2 linked regions of the Homo sapiens genome follow. The protein of the gene in region 2 purifies or fractionates together with the protein of the main gene of each other region. This does not show direct contact. Each region holds a gene or a part of one and is shown on either strand. Other genes may lie near its edges.

Region 1 (3,500 bases), on a different chromosome or scaffold from region 2:
CTTCTGGCCTCAAGAGGTCATTCCGCCTCAGCCTCCCACATGGCTGGACTACAGGCACAATCCACTGTGCCTTGCTAGAAAGAAATTTTGAAAACCGAAATGAAAATCCAAGTCCTATCAATTATAAAAGAAATTGACAAAAACTAGAGTCTTAGAAATTATGCATGCATTTTCCATAAGTAGTGTAGATCTGTAGATTCCCAAGTGCAGCTTGTGGATGCCTGCAGTGCTTATGCAGAGGATCACCATGCCCTTGACATTATTTGCTCCTGCCGATGGGATAGACACAGAGCAGCCATATTTCCCATATGCCATCTCCTTTTCCTTAATGGGTGTCTTTGCTTTCTTTCCTTCAGGAAAGTTTATATGGACTATAATGCAACGACTCCCCTGGAGCCAGAAGTTATCCAGGCCATGACCAAGGCCATGTGGGAAGCCTGGGGAAATCCCAGCAGCCCGTATTCAGCAGGTAATTCTAGAAGATGCACGTGTTCACTGATGGGAGATAATGGGGATGGGGCGCTCTTAGAGAAATTGCACACCCACACGTGACGGCTTTGTTTTGAATAGGTTTCTGTTAGCTGCAATTCTTGAGCTGTAATTTTTGATAGTTTCTTTTCTGGGAAGGCCCCATTTGTAAGCTGAGCCTTGTCGATACTGTAATCTTTAACCTTTAATGTTTAATCTTTAACATGCTGTCCTGTCACCCTTTCCCAGATGAGAAAGGTGTCTACTGAGAGTTCCTTGAAGTAGCAGTCAGTACCTGTGGAGCACTTCACAGATCTAGCTCAGTCAATCCTTACAGAATTTGCAAAATATGTCTTTTAGGTCATCAGGATAACATATAATCCTGGCCCTTTTTAAAGATGAAAATTACTTTTTCATTAATTACTTTAGTTATGAATATTCTTATTTGTTTCCAATTTATTCTTATTGTAATGTAGACCATTAAATTGGAGGTTTTGGAGAAGAATTTGCTTCAAGTCAGTTATATGACAGAGTTACATTCTGTTTTTCAGACAGATGAGCAAGCTAAAGTCTTACCTTTCTTATTTCATGTTTATGAGAGATAATTAAGATAAACTGTGTTAACTGTGGATGATGATGAACTAAATTAACTTCAAACAGAATATTGCCAGGCCATACGATTTAGTAACACTTGCGTACAATTTACAGGTTTAATACGTTCTCCTATCCATTTGCTTATTAAACGTTTCACGGCAACTTAATAACAAAGCCCTTCAGCTCAGATACTAGTCATTCATTAACTTATTTGTTGGCTTATTTGTTGGTCTATTCTGGCTAATCTTCTGCACATTGCCTCGTATCCAGTCTCTCCTCTAGTAAAATTGAAATTTCTGACGTATTAGACTTGAAAATATGGAGAATAATTAAATGCCGATGACAGGCATTGTCTCATGAAAAAGTCTGGGAATCGCTCTCAGGGAGAAATCATGTTCTGGACCTGAATGAAGCCTGGCAGTGGCTTTTAGGTTTCCTTGATAGCCTTTGTTTCCACAAATTAAGAACCATAAACTCAAAAGTGTTGCAGTTCACTTTGTGTTGCTACTCAGATCGAAATGCAAAAGAAAAAAAATCAATTTATAGAGTGGTTTAATTATTTTCACAATATTGTTATTTAAACTAATAATATTTTATTTTATTATTATTATTATTATTATTATTATTATTTTGAGATTGAGTCTCGCTCTCGCCCAGGCTGGAGTGCAGTGGTGCAATCTCGGGTCAATGCAACCTCCGCCTCCCGGATTCAAGCGATTCTTCTGCCTCAGCCTCCCAAGTAGCTGGGACTAGAGGCACGCGCCACCATGCCTGGCTAATTTTTGTATTTTTAGTAGAGACGGGGTTTCACCATCTTGGCCAGGCTGGTCTTGAACTCCTGACCTTGTGATCCACCCACCTCGGCCTCCCACAGTGCTGGGATTACAGGTGTGAGCCACCATGCCCAGCCTAAATATTATCTAAAGCCTTTGAGGGAAATTTATTTTAAGGAATATGTTGAGGATGTGGGGATTTTACATACCTAAGATATTTATCACAGTCTTGCTTATAATAGCAAAACAAACAAAAACCCTGAAAATAAGCTCAGCATTCATGAATTTTTATGAAAAATAAACTATCTTCGGCAAAACAAGAAACCTAGTGAGCATTGCACTGTTGTGCATGTGGAAGTCTCTTTACTGCCTGTTGCTGGAAGATAGCTGGCGCTCATACCTCCCCGTCCAGCCCACTGCAGTCACATCATAGTGACGGAAGCCTCTGGAAGGTTCACCATATACCTGTGAGAAAAGGAGCGTGAAAAAGGCAGTTCTTCTCTTAGTATCATCATGAAAACAGTTTTGACTTTGTGGACCTCCTGAGAGGGCCTTGGGGTTTTGGAAACCGCTGACGTAAGCAGCACTGACTGAGCACCAGCTGTGTACTCAGCACCCTGTTGGGGGAGGGATGAAGCACGGTGCCCAAAATGTATTTGGGTTTTCGAGGCATTACTTTGTCCACTATGTGGAGAATGGACCCTGGTGGGGGCCTGCTAGGAGAACATCACAGCAGTGGCCTTGGCTTGGTTGGTGGCTGGGCGGTGGAGAGGCAGAGTCAGGTTTGGAACATCGTTTGAACACAGAGCCTACAGCATTTGCTGGTGGATTAATTGGCGGGGAATGAAAAGGGAAAGAGCCCACGCTTTTGCCCTGGGCTGCTGAGGGATGGAGTTGCCATTTCCTGAGTGTATTAGTCTGTTCTCATGCTGCTAATGAAGATGTACCTGAGACTGGGTAATTTATAAAGGAAAGAGGTTTAATTGACTCACAGTTTCCCATGGCTGGGGAGGCCCCACAATCACGGAGGAAGGCGAAAGAGGAGCAAAGTCACATCTTACATGGCAGCAGAGAAGAGTGTGCGTGCAGGGGAGCTCCCCTTTATAAAACCATCAGATTTCATGAGACTGATTCACTATCACGAGACTAGCATGGGAAAGACCTGCCGCCATGATTCAGTTACCTCCCACCGGGTCCCTCTGATGACGTGGGAATTATGGGAGCTACAATTCAAGATGAGATTTGGGTGGGGACACAGCCAAACCATTATCACTGAGAGAGGGAAGGCTGAGAGTGAGGGTGACAGTTTATTACGGTGACTTTTAGTGTCACCAAGAAAAATGATGGAGTTTTCCTAAACACCACTTAGGTGTTTAGGAAACTACTACTAAAACTGACATCTATACAGTAGCGTTAAGGAGCAGCAGAATTACTTTGCATATTTATTTTACCTCAGCTTTTTATATTTCTCTTTTTTATGATGTTTCGTAATAGTATATGTTTTAGCGGTGCCTGCTCAATTTTTTCTTATTTTTAAATAAGACTGAATGGTCAAAAAAGTTTGGGGACTCCTGGTGTGTACACTAAGAATGGTCACTGAAACTTTCGGCATTCCCATGCCAGAGCCTTTCCTTCTTTGCCCCATCAAGCATGGTTGCTGTGTTT
Region 2 (3,500 bases):
GTGTCTTTCTAGGAAATTCAGTTCATGAAGATAAGAAGTTTCTTGACAAATACATGCCCCAGTTCATGAAACATCTTCATTATAGAATAATTGATGTGAGCACTGTTAAAGAACTGTGCAGGTAAGGGCTATATTTAGGATCCATTAAATTACCTCATTTAGCATGTTTTAATTGAGAATTTGTGGAAAGTAATTGGATAGAGCTGTAGAACTAAGGCTACCAAGTGGGTTCATATCTTCCTCATCCCATTCTTGCTTGTATAGGACCTTAACTTACCCTGGACTGGTGAGAATTGGGAGCAACAACGTCAGACATGTTCCCAGTAAATAAGCCAATGCCTGGCACAAAATAAGTGCTCAATACATTTTCTGGATTAACTAATATTATGTGGAAGTCTTGTGACTGGGAACATATAGATGAAAAGCTCTTAAGTACTTTAGAAAATAGTGGATCGACATATGTGTAAAAAAACGCACCCTGAAAATATACTCTATGATGACTCCTATAGTGAAAATGTGCGTATGGACTAGTGAGGTCACAAGGGAAGCAGCATCTAACTGTGCTGGAGCAAGAGGAATGGGGAGTCAGAGAAACCTTTACATAGCAAGGAAATAGCTTTGAAATTGAGATGTGAAGAAGAGTGGAAGTCTTGCAGGCATTTTATTGAGGAGAGAGCATTCAGAGAGAGCAGACAGAAGTATAAGAATGTGAGGGAGCAGGAAGCTAAGGCAAAATGTGTTAAATGAATCCCAAAGCATTCATTAATGCTGGAGTGCAAAGCATGAGGTTGGAGAAGGTGGGAGGTGGTTCTAGGGCCTCAAGAGCTTGCACACCATGCCAGTGAAGTTCACTATGATCTTGCAAGGAATGGGGTTCCTTTGAGAAAGTGTAGGTAGAAGAGTGAGTGATAACGATCGTTCTGATTCGAAGGTGGCAAGAAAAGTGGTAGAAAGATAGAAAGGAGGCTTTTTTTTTTTTTTTTTTTTTTTGAGACGGAGTCTCGTTCTGTCGCCCAGGCGGGAGTGCTGTGGCGCGATCTCCGCTCACTGCAAGCTCCGCCTTCCGGATTCACGCCATTCTCCTGCCTCAGCCTCCCGAGTAGCTGGGACTACAGGCGCCCGCCACTGCGCCCGGCTAATTTTTTGTATTTTTAGTAGAGACGGGGTTTCACCGTGGTCTCGATCTCCTGACCTCGTGATCCGCCTGCCTCGGCCTCCCAAAGTGCTGGGATTACAGGCGTGAGCCACCGCGCCCGGCCTGAAAGGAGGCTTTTCTGCCATCTTGGGGAGAAGAATGAACTGGAGAAAGGGCAGGGCATGGAAATGAGGGGCTTGTATGATAAAAATGTGAGAGGGTCAGTTGACAGACACTCAGTGTTCGAATGAGGTGGTGTGAAAAGGAAGAGGTATAATGTTATTCTGATGTTTGTAGTTTGAGCAGCTTTGGTGGATGATGGCAGTGTTCAAATAAAAAGGAGAAGAAGAAGAGTAGATATGGTGGATGGGGCAGGGGAGGTGTTGACAATGGTGGGTGTGTTTTGATGTATGTTGAATTAGAAGTGTCTGGTAGATTTTTAGATGGAGATATCTAGTGGGCAGTTGCATATCCATGACAGAAACTCTAGGGAGGGCTGGGCTGGATTTCCAGATTTAGCAATCTTACACACTGATGAGCTTGCTCATAGAAAATATATAGAAGAAAGAGAGGAGAGGGTAGAAGATAGAGGCCCCGGCAAAGAAGCAACTTGAGAATCATGACTCAAATGCCATTTTCAATGTTAATGGATTACTTGAAGGAGGTAATTGTTCAGTATATTTGAGACAGCTTCCTTTGAGAGTTCCATTTCTGCTGTGTATAGACGCTGGTATCCAGAAGAATATGAATTTGCACCAAAGAAGGCTGCTTCTCATAGGTAAGTTTGAGTTCTACCAAGCGTTTTCCAGTCTGACACACACTTAACTCCCAAATTCCTGACTGCTTGAAATAATGTCCCTTAACTCTTTTTTCTCGGGGAAAAGATAAAGTTCAACTAGCATAAACATAACATTCTTTTACTGTTAGGAATTCTGGTCAGGATTCCAGTGTTCCATTCTGAGAGGGTTATATAGCCTTTATTGCTGTTTCAAAACTCTTAGATAGCTTGGTTTATAGGAATGATGAAACAATCTGTAATCTTTCTAGTAATGAACCGTGTTAACTTTCTTCCCACAGAAGATATGGACTTGCAGCCTTTTGAAATTAGAACACTTTTTGTGTGCAATTCTATAATACAGTTGCCTACTTTGACACTTGTTATAGTTTTTCTGATTGTTTCTCTTATGTCTGTAGCCTTAGGTACAAGTAGACAAGGAATTTAAAGATCTTGTATATTCATGTGTCCTGTACTGGTTCTTTTCTTTTTGATTTTGTAGTCTTTCAGGAGAAACATGAAACCTGATGGGAGGTTTAGCAGCTGGCTTCTAAGGGTAGCATTTATTAAACCATTTACTGAACCCCTATGATGTACCTTGCACAGTTATAGGCAAATAGAGAAAGACCAATCCCTAAAGAGTCTGGCATTCTTACATTATTTTATTGAGTGTATGTAGACTGTAGCACAGGCATACAGGCCTAGACTACCTTATCTGACACAACTGGGGTATGTTTTGATTTCAGAATTTTTCAGATTTTAGAAAGGTGTTACTACATCTGTATTGTTTATTATCTTGTAGCATCCCTAACAAGGTTTGAGAAGCAGCCCATAATAAAACACATAGGTATTCTGCAGTGAAACGTGTATATTCACACCAAATGGCATAAGTAATGATGACTGTCAATAGCCTCACATTAAGATTGCTCAGGTTTTGCTACATAATAGGTTCTGTAAGTACTGTGGGTTTTCAGGTGTGTTTTGGATTTCAGTTTTGTGGATAAGATATTGTGTGCCTTTATTTAGCCAGAGGCTATAATTTTGGCAGCTTCGGCTCTGACATATATCCAAGTCCTGGAAAGAAAGCAGATGGTTGCCTTAGCCACACAAATAATTGTCATAAAACTCTTGCACTAAAATTTGTGCAGGGAATTCTCTAGAAGTGGCCCTTGGCCCATGATTCAGAGTTTATTGATTTACTTGCACACTGTTCTAATAATCTTGGTTACCTGATTTCTCAGAATACAACAGATGAGAAACAACATATTGGAAGAAAAGAAAGGCTCTTAGATGGAGGCAGGCTGCCACTGATTATAGCACAAATCACCATGAGAGAGGAGGTAGATCCTCTGGTATGGTTAGGTACTGTTTGATAATTGATGTTTATTATGATGACTGAGTCATGACTTATGTTCAAGTGTGTCAGTCTGTTTTGTTGAGGGACATCATCAAGTATTGGGCAATGTTTCTCAAACTGTGTTCCATGAACTGTTTATAAGTATTCTACAAATGTGGTCGATTAAGTTTTAGAAATACTAAAATTTATTAATTTTAGAAAATTAATAAATTAGAAATATAGGACAGCTTCCT

The links. Proteins that work in one complex are often made in the same cells at the same time.
Region 1: the proteins of REXO2 (region 2) and SCLY fractionate together in Homo sapiens (co-fractionation; one large-scale study listed by BioGRID). This does not show direct contact.

What each region holds. Positions count from the first base shown.
Region 1 is NC_000002.12:238,064,001-238,067,500, forward strand, and holds part of SCLY (selenocysteine lyase), read left to right. Parts: intron 1-356; coding exon 357-469; intron 470-3,500. UniProt on the Homo sapiens protein: Catalyzes the decomposition of L-selenocysteine to L-alanine and elemental selenium.
Region 2 is NC_000011.10:114,445,967-114,449,466, forward strand, and holds part of REXO2 (oligoribonuclease, mitochondrial precursor), read left to right. Parts: intron 1-12; coding exon 13-121; intron 122-1,859; coding exon 1,860-1,913; intron 1,914-3,500. UniProt on the Homo sapiens protein: 3'-to-5'exoribonuclease that preferentially degrades DNA and RNA oligonucleotides composed of only two nucleotides. Binds and degrades longer oligonucleotides with a lower affinity.